Linked DNA regions of Homo sapiens. The protein of the gene in region 1 interacts with the protein of each later gene in a pairwise test. Each region holds a gene or a part of one and is shown in the gene's direction. Other genes may lie near its edges.

What was found.
Region 2: the proteins of GOLM1 (region 1) and INSIG2 interact in binary tests that used the Homo sapiens proteins (3 or more experiments, as listed by UniProt).
Region 3: the proteins of GOLM1 (region 1) and SLC13A5 interact in binary tests that used the Homo sapiens proteins (3 or more experiments, as listed by UniProt).

The regions. Positions count from the first base shown.
Region 1 is NC_000009.12:86,033,518-86,040,558, reverse strand, and holds part of GOLM1 (Golgi membrane protein 1), read left to right. Parts: intron 1-4,051; coding exon 4,052-4,211; intron 4,212-4,933; coding exon 4,934-5,191; intron 5,192-7,041.
Region 2 is NC_000002.12:118,105,469-118,111,536, forward strand, and holds the end of INSIG2 (insulin-induced gene 2 protein), read left to right. Parts: intron 1-1,268; coding exon 1,269-1,435; intron 1,436-1,621; coding exon 1,622-1,721; intron 1,722-2,812; coding exon 2,813-2,854; coding exon of another isoform or gene 2,855-2,894; 3' UTR 2,895-5,529; downstream 5,530-6,068. UniProt on the Homo sapiens protein: Oxysterol-binding protein that mediates feedback control of cholesterol synthesis by controlling both endoplasmic reticulum to Golgi transport of SCAP and degradation of HMGCR.
Region 3 is NC_000017.11:6,703,331-6,710,371, reverse strand, and holds part of SLC13A5 (Na(+)/citrate cotransporter), read left to right. Parts: intron 1-3,215; coding exon 3,216-3,344; intron 3,345-3,593; coding exon 3,594-3,730; intron 3,731-6,315; coding exon 6,316-6,494; intron 6,495-7,041. UniProt on the Homo sapiens protein: High-affinity sodium/citrate cotransporter that mediates the entry of citrate into cells, which is a critical participant of biochemical pathways.

The DNA.
Region 1 (7,041 bases):
CCTCCAGCCCCGCTTCACAAGCTCAGGGCTTTACGGGAATTATCGTATTTAAAGCTCGCAGCCAGCCTGGGAGAGAGTTGCTGTTTTCCTGACTTGAGGACCCCAGCCCCATGGGAGGGGTTAAGTTCTGTGGCCAGTGTCACACCACCTGGTCAGTGGTAGAGCCCATCAAGACCTCAGGTCTGGCCGACTCCATGTCTCGTGCTGTCATTCCACCTCCTGTGCAGAGCACAGCCCACGAAGCTGCTGCTTGAAGCCTTCTGGGTGATCTTTGAGTAGTTTTTTAAAAATATAGCAGCTTTATTAAGATATAATTTGCATTCCCTATGATTCACCCATAGAAAATTTACAATTCATGGGTTCTGAGTATATTCACAAAGTTATGCAGCCATCACCACAGTCAATTTCAGAACATTTTTATTGGCACAAAAGAAACCGTGTATCCCTTAGTTCTCTCTTCAGTCCCCACAGCCCTAGACAGCCAACTGCTAATGTACTTTGTGTCTCTTGATTTGCCTAATCTGGACAATTTCCTGTCAATAGAATCATATATGTGTGGCCTTTTGTGTCTGACTTTTTTTTTTTTTTTTTGAGAGGGCATCTCGCTCTCTCACCCAGGCCAGAGTGCAGTGGCGCGATCTCAGCTCACTGCAGCCTCTGCCTCCCAGGTTCAAGCGATTCTCCTGCCTCAGCCTCCCGAGTAGCTGGGATTACAGGCACCCACCACCACACCTGGCTAATTTTTGTATTTTTAGTAGAGACGGGGTTTCATCATGTTGGCCAGGCTGGTCTTGAACGGCTGACCTCAAGTGATCCACCCACCTCGGCCTCCCAAAGTGCTGGGATTACAGGCGTGAGCCACCACGCCCGGACTGTCTGGTATCTTTGACTGAGTATGAATACCTCAGGGCTCATCGGGGTTGCAGCATGTGTCTGTACTGCATTCCCTTTAATGGCTGATTAATCCATCCTGTGGATAGACCACATGTGGATTATTCATCATCAGTTGATGGGCATTTGGAGTGTTTCCATGTTTTGGCTATTATGAATAATGCCGTATGAACATGAAGCTTTTGTGTGGTCATATGTTTTCATTTCTCTTGGTTAATACCTAGGAGTGGAACTGCTGGGTTATATGGTAATCTATATTTAACCTATTGAGGAACTCCCAGACTTCTTCCAAAGTGGCCATACCATTTTCGACTGCCACCAGTAGTTTATGAGGGCTCCAGTTTCTTCACATCCTTGCCAACTCTTGATACTACCTTTTTCATGATACCCTTCCTAGCAGGTGTGGAGTGGCAGCTCGTTGTTTGGGTTTGCATTTCCCTAATAACTGTGATATCCCTGATGATATTCAGCATCTTTTCACATGTTTCATTGGCCATTTGTATATCTTCTTTGAAGAAATGTCTATTTGGGTCCTTTGCTCATTTTTTAATTGAGTTATTTTTATTATTGAATTGTAAGAGTTTTTAAAATCTATTTTATTAAAGATATATGATAATGGATATATGATTTGCAAGTTTTTTTTCCCAATTCTGTGGGGTTTTTCACTTTCTTGCTGGTGTTTAGTTGAAGCACAGAAGTTCTTAATTTTGACAAAATCCCCATTTTATTTATTTTTTCTTTTGTTGTGTGTTCTTGGTATTATATCTAGTAACACTTTGCCTGACCCAAGATCTTGAAGATTTACTGTTACATTTTCTTCTCAGAGTTTTATCGTTCTTAGTTCTTACGTTTAAGCCTGTGATTCATTTTCAGTTAATTTAATTATTGCATATGGTGTGAGGTAGAGCTCCCACTTCATTCTTGTGTGTGTGCGGTTATCAAGTTGTCTCAGTAATCACTTGTTGAAAGAAAGACTGCTTTTCCCCCACTGAATTGTCTTGGCACCTTTGTCAGAAATCAGTGTGCTGTAAGTATGAGGGTTTTTAGTGAGCCTGAGTGTTTTAGTGAGCCTGAGTCCCTTGGCTGTGAATGTCCCCTATGCTTCTCTTCAGTACCCACTCCCTACCCCAGTGGGACAAAGTGGCTGGAATGGGCTGGAGTTGAGTAGCTTCCTTCTCCCACGTGGAAGTCTAGAGCTTACTGGAGTTGGGTGTTTCATTCCCCCAGGTCAGTTAGGCTCAGATAATATGCCCGCAGGAGCTCTGGGTAATGCGCTCCTCGTGAGGGCCGGCCTGGTTAAGGAGAATAGAGCACTCTGGCCTGTTTCAGAATGGTTCCTTTCCCCGCCACACTGCTGGAAGCACAAGCCGATTTTTCTCTGATGTTCACTGAGAGCCTTTCTCTAATATTCACTGAGAGCCTGGTTGAGCTCCTAGGGGTAAAACTCATAAGTATGGGAGTCCCTTATGACTGGGGCAGGTTTTTTCTTTTTCTTTTTTTTTTTTTTCTTTTGGTGTTGGAGTTTTGCTTTTATCGCCCAGGCTGGAGTGCAATGGCGCAATCTTGGCTCACCACAACCTCTGCCTCCCGGGTTGAAGCAATTCTCCTGCCTCAGCCTCCCGAGTAGCTGGGATTACAGGCATGCGCTACCACACCTGGCTAATTTTGTATTTTTTAGTATATCGGGGTTTCTCCATGTTGGTCAAGCTGGTCTTGAACTCCCGACCTCAGGTGATCAGCCCGTCTCAGCCTCCCAAAGTACTGGCATTACAGGCATTAGCCACCACGCCTGGCTGGGGCAGGTTTTTAACTCTCAGACTCATCCACACTGAGCCTCAAACAGTTCATAAATGACAGGGTCAGGCTCTCCCACCCTGACACCAGTTCCCGTGGTGATGTCTGCCCAAGCCTGTCCTGGTGAGCCGGGACTCTCTGTATTGGGCTGTCTGTCTCCAGGCTTAAGGACAGTGATTTACACTCTGTCCTCACCTCTCCTATGGATCCAAGAAGAGCTGATAACTTTTCAGTCTGTTTAGTTTTTTACTTGTTAGGACTAAGTGGTGACTTTTAAGCTTCTCACGTGAGGAACAGAAAACTGGAAGTCTTCTAATACAGATGCTTGAAGGTGTACATTTCTTCTAAGCACTGCTGGAGCTGCTTCCCATAAGTTTTGGTATGCTGTGTTTTTGTTTTGTGGCAAAGCATTTTCTTTTTTTTTTTTTTTTTTTTGAGAGACAGTCTCGCTCTGTCGCCCCAGGCTGGAATGCAATGGCATGATCTTGGCTCACTGCAACCTCCACCTCCCAGGTTCAAGCGATTTTCCTGCCTCAGCTGGAAATCACCTCCTTGCCTCACCTCCCAAGTAGCTGGAATCACAGGTGCCTGCCACCACACCTGGCTAATTTTTGTATTTTTAGTAGAGATGGGGTTTCACCATGTTGGCAAGGCTGGTCTCAAACTTCTGACCTCTGGTGATCTGCCTGCCTCGGCCTCCCAAAGTGCTGGGATTACAGGTGTGCGCCACCGCGCCTGGCTGTCCAAGCATTTTCTAATTTGTGTTGTGGTTTATTGTTGGACTCACTGGTTATTTAGGAGTGTGTTGTTTAATTTCCAAATATTTGCAAATGTCATAAGTTTCATCCTGTTATTGATTTATAATCCATTCCATTTCTATTAATTTACTTTGTGTGATTTTAGTTAAATATTTAAGTGTATGGAGGCTTGCTTTGTGGCCTGCCATTTGTCCATCCTGGAAAATATTGTGTGTGTGCCTGAGAAGCAGGTGTGTTTGCCCTTGCTAGGCTGAGGGTTCTGCAGATGTTTGTTTCGTCAAGGAGTATTGTGTCGTTCATGTCTTTTTTGTTGTTGATCTTCCGCCTAGGTATTTTATTATTCCGTAAATGCTTCCTCTCAGCAGAATCACTGCCCAGTTTTATTCTGTATTGACAGTACTTTCTGGGAGACCTTGACTCAACCTCTTGTCTTCTGATTTACGCCACATGACCAGGGCGTGACCAGAGTAGACTGTGGCGTTTCTCGGGGTCTTGGTTGGAAGGATATGGTGGTGGGATTGGTGGGATTCATTGCATTGGTAGGATTCTTTTACGGCTTCTGTTCACAGAGCCCTGCCCTGGCTGGCTGTCCTGTGCTTCTGTTTCAGCTCCAAGCCCTCAGTGAGCCTCAGCCCAGGCTGCAGGCAGCAGGCCTGCCACACACAGAGGTGCCACAAGGGAAGGGAAACGTGCTTGGTAACAGCAAGTCCCAGACACCAGCCCCCAGTTCCGAAGTGGTTTTGGATTCAAAGAGACAAGTTGAGAAAGGTAAGCAGAGCCCAGCAGTTGCCCTGTTCCCAGCTCTCCAGAGCCCCATCAGAGGAAGCAGTCCCAGCGAGCTGCTGAGGCAGTCAGTGAACCCGGCAGCGGCGCAGCCAGGAGCAGGGACGTGTCTCTCTGGGCCCCTGGAATTGGGGCTTTGGGGCTTCTCTGACAGATGTCTCCTCCTTGTAAACGAAGTGCCTTGTTCCTGGGCAGCTGTGTAGAGAAAGGCCCAGGCTGCACCTTTATGCAGGACATTGGTGGGCTTGTGGGACTCGGGGGAGGCGGCTGAGCCCCAGACACTGGGAACCAGGAGGCTGCTGTGTCTGTGAGCAAGCCCTGGGTGGGCCTGCCTGCCCTGGCTCCCAAGTGCTTGCTCCAGCGGACCCGATGATCAGGTCACTCAGCAGGATACCCTTTTCCCTTTGTACCTTGTCAAGGTAATTTAGTCCAGGTGTTTTTTTTTTTTTGTTTTGTTTTTTTTTTTGGTAAGCTACTTTTCCCTTTGTCGCGGTTCTGACGATGAGCTGCAGGCACAGAAAGGCCTGCAGTCTGTGGCTGAGGTCACAAAAGGAGCTACCTGGTTGTTCTCCTGTGTGCAGCCCACCCCACCCCCACTCCTTGGGAAGGCTCTGGGAATTGAGTGGCACCAGGTTTTGCTTTTTTTTTTTTTTTTTTTTTTAAATCAAATGCTGGCAAGGTCACAGCTAACTGTGTTCTGTGCACAGAGGAAACCAATGAGATCCAGGTGGTGAATGAGGAGCCTCAGAGGGACAGGCTGCCGCAGGAGCCAGGCCGGGAGCAGGTGGTGGAAGACAGACCTGTAGGTGGAAGAGGCTTCGGGGGAGCCGGAGAACTGGGCCAGACCCCACAGGTGCAGGCTGCCCTGTCAGTGAGCCAGGAAAATCCAGAGATGGAGGGCCCTGAGCGAGACCAGCTTGTCATCCCCGACGGACAGGAGGAGGAGCAGGAAGCTGCCGGGGAAGGTGGGTGTGAAGTTTCGGGGGCCGCTGTGGACTCCCTTCCACCAGACACCCAGCCCACCTCCATGTCCTTCCCAGCACCAACATATCACCCTGAATTTTACCAAACAGCAGTCCACAATTTGCCAATTCCTTTTCGTTTGAAGGTTTCTTATTCGTTATCAAGAGGGAGGCAGGAAGGAAGAGCAGCATATGCTCTAGAACTCGAGGTTTTAGATGCAATATTGGCAGGGAGTCGAGGGGACCTTGCAAGTGGATGGCCTGCAGATGGGTGCTTAGCATCAAGTGGACGCCCCCTCCTGGCAGGCAGGCCACATGCCCCATTTTTGTATGTCCACCGTCGTGCAGTGTCTGGTGCCATTTAGACAATCAGTGCCTAGTGAATGAATGAAGGAAGGAAGGAAGGAATATTGGGTAGATGAAGGTTAATGCATATGTGAACATTGAGAAAAAATGACATGTGAATCACTCCTTTTTGGTTTGGTTGACTCTTTTCTTTTTAAAGAAATAAAGGGTAGGAATTGGAGATCAACCGACTATTCCAGGATGTATTTCAGTCCCTTCAGATATGGAAAATGTCCTTCCCACCTGAGCCAGGAACACTTCTGAGGACATGACACCTGCGCTCTGGGGTGGACCAAGTCACAGAAGTTGGAGAATACACTTATTTGCAGAAGTTACCTTGATTCCATTTAAATCTAATTTTCACTTCAGTGTCTTACTGAAGAACGTGTCCTTCCAAGTTCCAGTTAAAGAATTGGATTTTGTCAGCCTCCCCCTAAGTATCCCTGCTCTGTCCTTGTGTTCCGTGCTCACCCAGCAAGAAGATGCTTGTGGTGTGTGAGGCGGGGAGATCTCACTGGCTCGCTCAGCCTGTGGCGCTCCAGTGTCAGACCCCTCAGCGGCTGGTCACAAAGCGTAACAAAGGTGGGCCTGAGATGCCACAGTGCCTGCAGGATGCACCTGCTTCTAGATGCAGGTGTGGTGACCTCATTTGAAGAAACGCGGTGGACACATAGGCCTGTGCAGTTTCCACCCCAGGCAGTGAGCCAGAGAAAGAGACTAGAGCTGCTTTTCCAGGTGTGCACTTTTAAAAAAGATTTTGTTTGGCCGGGCGCAGTGGCTCATGCCTGTAATCCCAGCACTTTGAGAGGCCGAGGTGGGCGGATCATGAGGTCAGGAGTTCAAGACCATCCTGGCCAATATGGTGAAACCCCATCTCTTCTAAAAATACAAAAATTAGCTGGGCATGGCAGCACGTGCCTGTAATCCCAGCCACTCGGGAGGCTGAGGCAGGAGAATCGCTTGAACCCCGGAGGCGGAGGTTGCAGTGAGCCGAGATTACGCCACCGCACTCCAGCCTGGGCGACAGAGTGAGACTCCATCTCAAAAAAAAAAAAAAAAAGATTTTGTTTACCAGCCTGCATACACATATAAAATATGTAAGTTAAACCCTTTGAGTAGGTCTCTTGAAAGCCTTTTGTCCTCATCTTCTCTGGCTGCTGCCCACTCCAGGGAAGAATAGAGTAATGGGTGCTCTCATGCTCTAAGTATGAGGGACACCTTCTCACGTGTCTCACAGTGGCAGCTCCATTTCCTCTCTCCATTCTAAGGAGATGCTGTCATTAGCTGTAGATATCCGTTCCTTCCTAAAACAGTGGCACCTTTCTTTTATCTTGAGTTGATTATCTCTTTAAAAAATTGAGATTTGGGTTGTTAGTTTCTCCATGTTCTGCCTAGAATGCACCCTTGTATTTAGGGCCATGCTGTCTGTAGATTCCGAGTCCAAGTGGAGTACACATAATGCATGTGCTTGTCCTGGAAGCCAGCCCTTGCGTCCCTACCATTTCCAG
Region 2 (6,068 bases), on another chromosome or scaffold:
AGTGTTTATTTCATAGGGAAATCAGAGCTCTAAACCTTTTCTTTGAACTTTAAGTATAATGACAGCATAACAATAAGAAAAGCTTTTCCAGAAGCATACCCATATGAACTGTAGGTTTCTTTTTAAATCAAGCCTTAACAAGGAAGGACCTTGAGGGAGTTGCCCACAATAGTCCTGAGATTCTGAGAAATAAGCAAGCTGGGTGTTTAGGATACTTGCTTGGTAGGGGTGGGGAAATGGTGAAAAAGAGTGTTAAAGGAAGTGGGAAATGGCTTCGTTGCAATTTCTTTTTTGGATTTCTCTATACGTGCAGCATGGTCAGTTTGGTGATACGTGTTCTCCCAAACCTCCCCCGCCTTCCCCAGTAGCTGGTTATAGAGCCAAGATGTGGCCTTTGGGACATAGATAATGCCCTTTTAATGACACTTGAAATTAATTCCTTTAGTGTAATCCTCTAGCAAAGAGATGAGAAAACTGAATTTGTAAAGCTTAATTTTACCCAGAGATTTTGGTGTAGAAAAGGGCCATACATTTGTGAATAGATGCTTAAGTAGGTGATGAAAATAAAATATCATTTGAGCAAACTGTCCTATACCAGAAAGTCTCAGGCACCAAAATAGCTTGGCAGGTTGTAAGATAATGTTCACTTCAAGGCTTTATCCTCAACAAATTAAAACTAGAACAGTTGACATAATAGAAAGGGATACTGTGTCCTTGGTACTCTTGTTTCTGAACTGCATTATTATAAAATGTGTCTGTCAGTAAATCATAGAGAGAATGTGGTACCCTGTTAAATAGCTGTCAACTCTTCTATTTTCAAGTTCCTGTACGATTCTCAAGTAATTCTAAACCTGTTGGAGAAGTAATATTGGTTTCCTTTTTTGCAAAAGTGTGTTCCTTTAGTGATACTTGTGTTCTGAGGCTTCCAGTTACATTTTTAGCAAAGAAAGCATTTCTTAAATAATGGGTAAAGCCTTATAATTGGGAATGTATGTAGACTGTTCTTTTTGTTTTGTTTTGTTTTTTGTTTTGGAGGGGTTACAGTTGGTAGGATCTATTGATTAATGTCTTTTGTGTATCTGGTATTGGGTAAATACTGGAGACAGTTTTAATCCCACCTAGCTTCATACATTGTACTAAGAGACTGAATGTACTTGAGTAGAAGCAATTAATTCCCTTCTCAACAGAGGCATCTCTTATTTAGAAAAATGAACAGATGATATTATTTGGTTACAACTTTTAAGATGACTTCTTAACACTGATCTCAGAAAGTGGATTTCGATAACAACATACAGTTGTCTCTCACACTGGCTGCACTATCCATTGGACTGTGGTGGACTTTTGATAGATCTAGAAGTGGTTTTGGCCTTGGAGTAGGAATTGCCTTCTTGGCAACTGTGGTCACTCAACTGCTAGTATATAATGGTGTTTACCAGTAAGTATTAATCCTTCAATTTTTGGTGCTTGTTTGCTAGATAAATAAATGATAACCGCTTTCAGAATTGAGATTATGAAATGAGGTTAGCCAGTTTAATCTACAGAGTAGTTTATTTTCATTGTAATTATCTTAAGTGTCATTGCAGTTCCTCTGTGGGTATTAAAGACATGTCTGTTATTCTAGATATACATCTCCAGATTTCCTCTATGTTCGTTCTTGGTTACCATGTATATTTTTTGCTGGAGGCATAACAATGGGAAACATTGGTCGACAACTGGCAATGGTAAGCTGATGCTCACTTTTCTGAATAAGATGTGGAACAAATGACAAGTTTTCTCTAAAAGGCAGTCCTTTAAGGGAAAGCAATTTGTGAAGACAACATTCTTTGATTGCTTTTTTGCACTTCCATTGAAATAAATCATTTGGAAGAATTTAATCACAGGTGTTTTAAAAGTTGAGGAGCCACTGGAGAGAAAAACTCAAAATGTGTTATGGATAGGGCAATATGATTTATTGACCATATGGGGGATATTAGTGGTTTTTAAAAAACTAATCTACAGGTCTCCCACTATATCAGAAAAGGACAGTTTTAAAAGTTAAAAAGGTCACTACTAATAAGTGTGTTGCTACAATAGGTATACATTAGGACCACCTCTAACAAATCAAGATGTTTGATCATTTTAGTGATGAAGGAAAAGGAAAAGGCTAGGGAGTGACATTCAGAGGCCACAGCAGTTTTATGAATCAGTGCTGTCACTTTTACCTTTTTAGCCAGGTTAGGAGAATTGAGTGACTTACTTTGCTGTATTTTTGGTAAAATAGCCAACCAATTATCTTACCCTGTTGGTTTCCTTTATTTTGAATTGTGGGTGTACATTTTTATAGCTGTACTTTAAAAATGTTGTTTTGACTGGAAGCTTTTGTTAATGTAACAGATTTTTTCCTTTATATCATATAGCAATTTGAAAATACAGTGATCTGAGTTCACCACAACAGCCCTATCCTTAAGTTCATGAACTATTCTTTGCTAATTTGCCTTATTGAATACTCAAAGAAACCTGCTTTGCTTCCTTTCGACATTAAAAGATTGATCTAAATTCTAAATCATATACTGCCACTACTTGCTTGTAATGCAGAAATCTCATCTTTCTCTTGCTTTTGGCTGTGGCTTTTTCACTTCCAGAATGTGAATTATTTTTTTCCCTGTCACATTTGTCATTTAATCATAGTAATTATGTAACTCTTGGATTATTTGAGGAATAAATGGGCACATAGTAATAAAATGTTCATTTTTAGAGCTTTTCAGTTTATTTGGAAGTTGCTATTCAAAAGAAGTCTTAATCTGTTAACCTTTTAACCTTTTAATTTTTGCAGTACGAATGTAAAGTTATCGCAGAAAAATCTCATCAGGAATGAAGAAGGCAAAAAATATCTTTTGTACAGAAAAGCAAGATGAAAAGGATGTGAAATGGTAGATATACCAACAAAACTTCAGACTGTAAAATTGCCAGGATGCAGTTTTCCCCTTGATTGGCGTGTGTGTATATATGGATAAATATATATATACACACACACATATTACTGCAATCTGTGATTGCTTCATCTGTAAATCAGTTGTAAACCTTTACATATTTGACTTAAATAACTGTAAGATATATATGTACTACATTAAAAAGTGTTGATTAATAGATGAAATTTTTAAATTAATTTTTTAAAACATGCCATACATTGTATCACAATGTTAATGTGCCAAGATATTGTTCCTGTCATGCAGAGTATAAGAATGCTTTGAACAATTTGTAGACTTAGTGAAATAAAATAAGAGGAAAGCCAAAAACAAACAAACAAAAAGCATATGGGGAGCTGGTATTTTCTCTTTAGCTTACTGTTGTGCCTTTTTATTTTTCTAATCACAGCAGTATGAGTTATGAGTGCCCTAATTTGTGGTTAGTTTCTAATTTAATGTTGTTTCATAGAGTTTGGAGTGTTTTGATACAGGGTGAAAATGAACTTCTGGTTTCAAACCTGCGTTACTGGAGACAGCCCAAAGAGTAATTTTCTGTTTTGACAGGTTTTACTGGAAGTATATGTGATGAGCAGAAGAGGTTATCAGCATTAAATTGTTTTGGTTCTAAATTTGGAACAGTATATATAATTAAAAGTAAGGAACATTAGAGGATTTAATTAGAATAAATACATGTTTTGGAAATACAGTGACCTCTTGCAGTGTCACAAAAGTGCAAAGTGATATTAGCTGTCATCTGCAATACAGAATCTCATTGCTTTTGCACATGGAGCATATAGGAAACTCCAAACAGATCACAATGAGGTTTCTAAATCTGTTGGGTTCTGTCTTCTATTGGGTTCTGTGAAGCAAACCACTGTAGCTTTAGCTGGGTTCAGTCATATGACTCGTTGGTGGAATGCCTAGGTTTTTCATCTTACATGCAGTCTTGGGGGTGGATGAATACATAATTTCTCATGTATTCGTGTATCCATTAGTGAATAGTTCAAGTCTGTTTAAGAGTGTATTGAGATGGCATTCTCTGCATGTTAAAGATCTTAATGGCAACCAGCACCTCTTAAGTATGGTTTAAACATATTCTTAGCTAATTTTTTCCATTAGTTTTTGAAATTGGTGGCAGTTGTCTGATCCACAAGGGCAAGATCTTCTGAGTACTCTGGGGTGTGAGTATGTGTGCACACGTGTGTGTTGGAGTGAGTGAGAGAATGTGTCTGTGCATGTGGCCATGCTTTCCTAGAATGTCAAGTAGATATTTTTACACTTTGAGTTTTAAAGCAATTACTATCAGACTGAGATCTTGTATGCCAAACTTTAATCTGCTTTTATGTTTTCAGGCTGAAGGTGTGAAAATCCTAAGAGGATTTCATATTGAATATGTGTACACAATCTTAACTATCGTGGTGGAAAACATACTACTATAATTTATTATTATATCTTCCAGATAATGTTATTCATTTAGAACAAATAAGGTATATTTTTTAGAATCAACTTTGTAAGCACTATAAAATCTTTAATAAGTTATAAGGTCTATGATGTGTTTACTTTAAAAATTGCTGTTAAAAGCAACACGTATTAAATATGTAATTATCATCTGGGTTAAGAGTCTGTTTTTCTTCTTTGTGGTAAGTCTTAGAATATGGTACTGTGGATTAATCTAATGAAATTAACATATGTGGTTGAAGTTACCAAGAAACGATGAAAAGAAACTAAATATAGTTGACCCTTGAACAACAGGAGTTAGGGGCACCACTCCCCAACATAGTTGAAAATCCATGTATAACTTTTGACTCCTCCAAAACTTAACTACTAATAGCCTACTCTTGATGGGAAGCCTTACCAATAAGAAACAGTTGATGAACACATATTGTGTATGGTATATGTATTATATACTGTTTTCTTACAATAGTGTAAGCTAAGGAAAAGAAAATGTGTTTACTCTTCATTCAGTGGAAGTGGACCATCCTAAAAGTCTTCACTCATGCTATCTTCATGCTGAGTAGTAGGCTGAGGAGGAGGAGGAGGAGGGGTTGGTCTTGCTGTTGCGGGGGTGGAAGAAGATGTGCATTATTAGTGGGCCCACACAGCTGAAAACCATGCTGTTCAAGGGTCAACTGTGTGTGGTATCGGTGAGACTGAATGATTATCGTTGGTGTTCTTAAATTATTTTCAGGTCCTCTAGAAAATAAGATAATTATAGCAAAAAATAAAATTGTTTTGAAATTTTGATAAATATATAAATGTATAGAACCTATTTTTTTCAATGAAAGAAAATGGGAAACATTTTTTAACATTGCTAGATTGGCAGTGCTTTCTTTTATTATTTCAAGTTATGGAAATTTGCACAGTTGAAAACTGGGGATAAATTCTACAAAAGTGCAAGAAAACAATTCAAATTAGCCAGAGCCCTGCTAAAACTTTTAATGTAAAATTTATTTATTTGCACTGAGCTGTTTTACCTTCTTTAAGGCCATTGGGACCTCTCAATGATGCATATGTTTCATACATCTTGTATTTTCCAGGTAGAAGTCAGACTTGGTTAATACCAATAAATACTTCTGTAATCCTATTGGCTCAGTTACCTTTATAATGAAGTATATTCTGTGTAAGGTAATTCTTCCAGTGATGGTCTGAGTAGTAGAGTCTTAGCTTTGTGTGTCTGAAAAGGTCTGTTTCATTCTGAAGAATAATTTAGCAGGCTGTAGGATTCTATGTTCATAGTTTTTTTCCCTCCCTCAGCACTTTGAAGATTTTTAACTCATTGTCTTCTGTCACCTAATGTTACAGATAAGTCTGCCATTACCGTAATTTTCTTTCCTTTGTAGATAATCTATCTTTTCACTCTAGGATATTTGCATGATTTTCTCTCTATCCTCTAACATTTTTCAGCTTCATTATGATTTGACTAGTTGTAGATTTGTTATTTTTTTTTTTTGCTTGGTATTTGGTATGTACTTTCAATCTGTGGGCTCATGTTTTCAATTCTGGAAAATTCTTAAATGTGCCTGCATATTGGAATCACATGGGGACCTATAGAAAATTCTGGTGTCTGGGTTCCACCCCCAGAGACTCTGATACAATTAGTTTGGGGTATGCCCTGAGCATTAG
Region 3 (7,041 bases), on another chromosome or scaffold:
AAACAAGAGGGGACAGGGACCAGGATTGGGAGCAGGAGGAGTAATTTATGAGCGACATTGTTTAGAATTGCTATCACTTGATGATAGTAAGAAGCAAACTAATTTTTAGCTAATATTATTGTTTTAAAATTCTCTCCAATGCGCCCTCTCATTGTCTGCCCCTGGAGGCATCATTCTGATGGCCTGCCCAGGGTACACCCCGACACCAAGCCCCAAGGAAGTTAGTGGCTGCCAAAGGCCAGACAGTGGCTGACAGTGGGCGCCAATCATATCTGTCTGGTGTCAAAGCCTGGGCTTCCAGTCACGCTGCTGTTCCGCCTTTAGTTCAGCGGCTGTCAACCAGCATTGACCCTTTCTCCTGCCCTCACCCTGCCCCACAACAGGGGAACTTTGGCAAAGTACAGAGACATTTTTTGCTGTCCAACCTGGAGACAGTCTTACTGGCATCTCATAGGTGGAGGCCAGCGGTGCTCTAAACACCCTGCAGTGCACAGCTCCCACAACAAAGCATCATTTAGCCCAAAATGTCAGTGTGCCGAGGCTGAGGGACCCTGCCTCCCAGTAGGGAGGTGCCCTGGTTTGCTCGTGGGATGCTGAAAAAAGATTTATTTTTTTGTGGCTGATAACACAACCCTGACAAAGAATTTCCAAGTCTTCCTGCACTGTTTTGTGCAAATAATACATACGCTCTTCTGGGTGATGAGAAGCAGGGATTGTGTACAGGTGCATCTGTTCTTCAGCAGCATTGTCAGAGTTAAACTCAGATGAATGCTATTGATTCCTTTAATAAACATTTGCAAAGATGGCCGGGCACAGTGGCTCATGCCTGTAATCCCAGCACTTTGGGAGGCCGAGACAGGTGGATCACGAGGCCAGGAGATCAAGACCATCCTGGCCAACATGGTGAAATCCCCTCTCTACTAAAAATACAAAAATTAGCCGGGCGTGGTGGCGCTTGTCTGTAGTCCCAGCTACTCAGGAGACTGAGGCAGGAGAATCGCTTGAACCTGGGAGGTAGAGGCTGCAGTGAGCCAAGATTGCACCACTGCACTCCAGCCTGGGGACAGAGCAAGGCTCTGTCTCAAAAATAAGTAAGTAAGTAAATAAATAAATAAATAAATAAATAAGCAAGAATTTGCAAAGATATCCTAAGTGTTGGGCCTGTTCTGGATGCTGAGGACGGTGATCTACAAATACAGCAGGTTCTTGAATAATGTTGATTCATTCAATATCATTTCATTATAATGTTGATGAGGGAGGGAAAAAAAAGGAAGGATCCCTTGAGCCCAGGAGATGGAGGTTACAGTGAGCTGTGACCGTGCCACTTCACTCCCACCTGGGCAACAGAGCCAGACCCTGTCTCAAAAAAAAAAAAAAAGAAATAAAAGAGCGAGAGAGAAAGAAAAGAAAATGATTACTGGCTGGGGCCACTGTCTGTGTGGAGCGTGCACATTACCCTCATGTCCACATGGCTTTTCTTTGGCTAGTATGGTTTCCTTCCACATCCCAAACCCGTGCACGTTAGGTGAATTGGAGTGTCTGTATGGTCCCTGTCTGAGTGAGCGTGGGCGTGCGTGTCAGTGTGCATTCTGCAATGGGATGGCATCTTGTCCAGGGCTGGTTTCCACCTTGTACCCTGAGCTGCCGGGACAGGATCTGGTCACCCAAGACCCTGACCTGCTGTAACTGGGTAAATAATTATCTAACTTGTTTTCAATGTTTCTTAAGTATATGTATAGCTCACATTCCCTTCAGTGTTTAATATTGGAAGTGTTTTGGTCTTTATTTAAGATCTCCGTGATGTTTTTGTGACCAGAAATATGCTGTAGAAATTTAACTGTTGTTTCTAGCAATTTGCCTATGGGAATATTGGCTTATGTTGTTTCGCTTACGCATTGCAATTTCCAAAAACCAATCAATGATGTTAAGTGAGGACTCACTGTACTGTTTGTGCTTTCGAGTCACGCACTGGTTGTGGTGGTAGAAGGACAGTTGAGGAAACAGTGACAACTCCATATGCTAATGGCTGGGGAGGGTACTCAGAGGAAGGGCACAAACCAGACTATAGAAGAGGCGCAGGGAGACATCTAAGAAGGAACTCTGAGGTTGGGCGCGGTGGCTCACGCCTGTAATCCCAGCACTTTAGGGTGCTGAGGTGGGCGGATCATGAGGTCAGGAGTTCGAGATCAGCCTGGCCAATGTGGCAAAACCCCGTCTCTACTAAAAATACAAAAATTAGCAGGGCGTGGTGGCAGGTGCCTGCAATCCCAACTCCGGAGGTTGAGGCAGGAGAATCGCTTGAACCCGGGAGGTGGAGGTTGCAGTGAGCTGAGATTGTGCCATTGCACTCCAGCCTGGGCAACAGGATCGAAACTCTGTCACACACACACACACAAAAAATACTGATGAAACATAAAACAACCTAGGGAGGTGGCTAGTTTTATCACATAATTATTATTACTTTTATTTCAATAGCTTTAGGGGTACACGTAGTTTTCGGTTACATGAATGAATTGGATAGTGGTGAAGTCTGAGATTTTAATCCCTCCCTCCTATCCCACCCTGTCTGCTTCTAAGTCTCCAGTATCCATTCGACCACGCTATATACCTCTGGATACCCATAGCTTAGCTCCCACTTATAAGGGAGAACATGCACTATTTGGCTTTCCATTGCTGAGTCACTTCTCTTAGAACAATGGCCTCCTAGGCGGCAAGAGCGACACTCCATCTCAAAAATAAAATAATAATAAAACCAAAAAAACCAGGTATTTTATTCTTCTTCTCCTTCTCCTCTTCCTCCTTTCTTTTCTTCCTTCTCCATCCCCCTTCCTCTCTTTCTTCTATCCCCTCCTCCTCCTTCTCCTCCTTCTCCTTCTTTCTCCTTTTCTTCCTTGTCCTATTCTTGATCTTTTCTTTTGAGAGGCAGCTAATCCAAGGTTTGAGAAGATGAAAGAACGTGCCTAGAACCACACAGCTGGGAAGGAGGGAGGCAGGGAGGAGGGGTGGGAATGGGGCAGGAGTCCTTTGCGAATAGATCCCTGGCCTGACCCGGGAAAGCTGTGCTGACCAGGGCTGGGGAACAAGATGACTTTGAGGGGAATCCCTCTGAGATCAGCACTGTGTCTTGACAATCCATGCCAGCCGCCGTCCGGAGTGTTCTGGGGGTGGGGAGAGGGAGGCGGCAACACGCTGAGGCCTCAGGACTGTCTCTTCAGTTTGTCAGGTGTGCCTACGTCATCATCCTCATGGCCATTTACTGGTGCACAGAAGTCATCCCTCTGGCTGTCACCTCTCTCATGCCTGTCTTGCTTTTCCCACTCTTCCAGATTCTGGACTCCAGGCAGGTGAGCAGACCCAAGGGATCCTGGTGACTTTCTGGTTCTCCCCTTCTCTCTTTCTCTAGTCCCCACTGTGAGTCGCACAGGCCTGGGGGTGACCGGAAAACCCTCATTTGTGGATTCTCCCTGGCAGGGAGACACCACTCGAGCCTGCATCCCCACTCCAAGCTGTCCCTGAAGTCAGCATCTGGGGACTGGGTGGCTCTAGTGTGTGGCAAGGGACAGTCCTGATGAGGCCTTCGTGCCACGCTCCAGGTGTGTGTCCAGTACATGAAGGACACCAACATGCTGTTCCTGGGCGGCCTCATCGTGGCCGTGGCTGTGGAGCGCTGGAACCTGCACAAGAGGATCGCCCTGCGCACGCTCCTCTGGGTGGGGGCCAAGCCTGCACGGTAATTACGCCTTCTCTCTCTTGCCACGTGGCTCTGCATGAGCCCCAGGGCTGGAAGGGGGTGGAGGATGGCACAGACCAGGCCATCCACTGGTGAGGGCTGGCCATGGGCTTACCTGGACTTGGCTGGGTGGGGTGCGTTATAGCTTTAGTGGGAGAGACCAGATGCATGCGTGGTGGTGGCACATGGTGAGCAGCAGTAAGTAAGGGTCCTCGAATCCAGAGGAGGTGGGTCAGCAAGAGTCCTTGCAGGCTTGGAAGGCTTTCTGGGGGAGGCAGCTAGCTGCAGGGTTCCACCGGGAACAAATTGGATAGAGGCTGGATCAAGCTGTGTCTGATAGGATAAGGGAAGCAGGCCAGAAGTGGCTCAACTACCCAGCTCATGGGGAAGCAGAAAGGTCCTCTCTCCAAGCTGGAGCATCTATTCCCACTGCAAAGAAGCTTCTTATCTTCCCCGATATCACTCAGTACCCCAGCTTCTCTCTCCATTTCCAGGATCTCTCCTGCCAATCTAGCTAGCCATTTCCAGCTAAGCCATGGAGTCAATATAATCATAATCATAACCATAATCAATCATGATCATAATGGGTATATTGAGTGTCTACAAGGCCCCAGGCATGATACCAGGAGCTTATGAATTGCCTCATTTAATTCTTACCACAACTCTGAGAGCTGAGTATTCTTACTGCCCACATTCTGTGGATGAGGGATTGGAGGCAGAGAGGGATAAAGTGATTTGCTCATGGACACACGGGGATTGGACCCAGCTTCTCTGATAAGGCCTGTGTCCTCTCTAATCAGAAACTCAGGGCATATCTTCCTTTTGAGACAATGTGTCCCCTCAATGATGGCACGTCCTTGGCCCAGCCATCAGGAGTCAGCTGCTGGTCAGTTTACGGTAAATTCCTCCTGAGGCGCCCCTGTGTCAGGGGCTGTGCTAGACCCTGAGCACACACAGACGCTAGCCTGCCCTGCAGGCAACCCATGCCCGGGGCTCCCTTGGTGCCTCAGATTCCCCTGAGCAGGGGACTTTGTGGCTCTCTGATCTGTTACACATCCTGGCATTGATTCCTTCCAGTAATTGCTTTAGCATCAAATCAAAAGCCATCATATTTTCTAGAAATGAGAGACCCCAGGAAAGTGGACCTCAGGGCCCTCAGAATTCTTCTGCTTGGCTCCCTTGAGTGGCCAGCTTGGGTGGGAGGCCACTCCAGTGGGTTTCATTCTGCAGCATGCTGGAGAGCTTCCACTTCCAAACCCAAGTTCACACATGCTTCTGTATCCTTCCTGCCACCTTGCTCCTCTGAGTATGGTCTCCGGTTGTCCAAGGCACTGCCTGTCCTGGGAGTCACCTGTATGTGAGGCACCCTTGGTGCCTTGAGATATCATGTAGAAGCCTTGGTTCTTCTCAGACAACTCCATTCATGCAAACTCTCCCCCTCCTCCTAGCCTGGGTCCCGGGCTTTGTTTTTTTTTGGGTCCATAATGTCTGCCTGTGTGGACAGCAGCTTGGGCCCTGGTGCAGAACAGCTCCTAGGTCCCTTCTTCAGGCTCCTACCCCTGCCCCTGCTCCTACCCCCAGGTGAATTAGGAGCCCTGAGGAGGAGCCTGGCTGCAGCGAGGCCCACAGACTGAGAGTAGCTGAGCTCCTTCTGTCCCTAGCCTTGGACAGCTGGGGCATGTAGAGCCACAGAGCAGAGTCAGGCCCTGCCCTGCTCACAGCCCAAGGAGAGAGCAGACATGGAAACAGGTGCTTTGAACCCAGCACAGCGATGATTAGAGTAGGGGGAAGGATTGAGAAGGGTCAGGCCAGCCCCACCTGGTGCACACACTGAGAGCGTGGTCCCAGAGGAGGGATGTTGTTTGAGCAGGCTCTGAAGGACCATGAGGAGTCTTCCTGATAGACAGCAGAGAAGGGAGCAGGGGTTACAAGCAAAGGGAGTGTTTCTTCTGAATACTGTTTGTGTGATAGCTCCACTGCAGCATGGAGGGGTCAAAGTGTATGTGCGGGGCGGAGGGGAGATGGCAGGGTTGGAGTGGCAGCCGGGAGAATAGTCACACTTTCCCAAGCTCCCTCCCCAGCTCACCCTACCCCTACTCTGCTTAGCCCTTCTGAACTTCTGAGAGGTGCAACAGAGTTTGGGGGTGGGTGGGAATTTCCTAGCCAGAAGTGGGAAGCTGGGGCTGCCTGCACATAGGGGTATTCCAGCACACCCTAGGGCAAGCTCATATTGAGTTGGCACCATCTGGATGCCTGGGCTTCCCCTGCTAGATGGTGGGGCAGGGGTGCTCCTTAGAACCACGACTGGATCTGAGGCCTCTTGGTAACCCCAGAAGCAAGCAGAGTAGACATCAGTCATGGGTGTGGGAGAGGCAGGAGGGAGAGAGGAATGGAGGAAGCAAAGAAGGGAAGGAGGGAGGGAGGGGAGGCTCTAAAACCGTCATCCCTATTCCAATATCTGATCTTGAATTGGCCTCAACACCTGTGCATCCCTGCAGGGGTGGACCCAGTCCCCAGTTGCTTCCCAGGGAGTACGGGGGTGGGGTGGGGATTCTCTGGCTTTCCTCCCTGCCCCTCCTCTGCAGGCTGATGCTGGGCTTCATGGGCGTCACAGCCCTCCTGTCCATGTGGATCAGTAACACGGCAACCACGGCCATGATGGTGCCCATCGTGGAGGCCATATTGCAGCAGATGGAAGCCACAAGCGCAGCCACCGAGGCCGGCCTGGAGCTGGTGGACAAGGGCAAGGCCAAGGAGCTGCCAGGTGAGCCCCTGGCCAGGGCACTGCCAGGCCACAACAGCAGCCTTCCCCTCCCTCTGCTGGCAAATGCTTTGGCCACCTCCTTCTCCCTGTCTGCTTCCCGGAGCCCTCCTTTAAACACGCATAGAGAAAAAAAAATAGAAAATACTGTTGTCCTAAGTTTTAGGAGGGGATTATTGCACACAACTTAGATCCTTTAATAGAGCTTTGAACAAAGTCTCACCCTCAGTTCCCATCAGTTGCAGAAATCAGTGTGTTCACCTGATTATTCATTTGGGCATCTTTCGAGCACTTAGGGATGCCCCTCACTCCTTGCTACTCCTGCTCATCCTCAAGGAGGCCTTTTCTGACCTCCTCGAGCAGCTCAAATCCTTCCACTCTCTGCTCCCATAGGTCTGGGGCTTGGCGTCCCATGCTTGCTTCCCTGCTAGGTGCGAAGCTCAGGGAAGACGAGTCAGCATCTACCTTGCCGTCTGCCGTGTTCCCTTACCATCCCCAGCCCAGTGCAGTAGAGTCAGGGTCTGTGGCTGACGGCCTGATTGCCAGACCC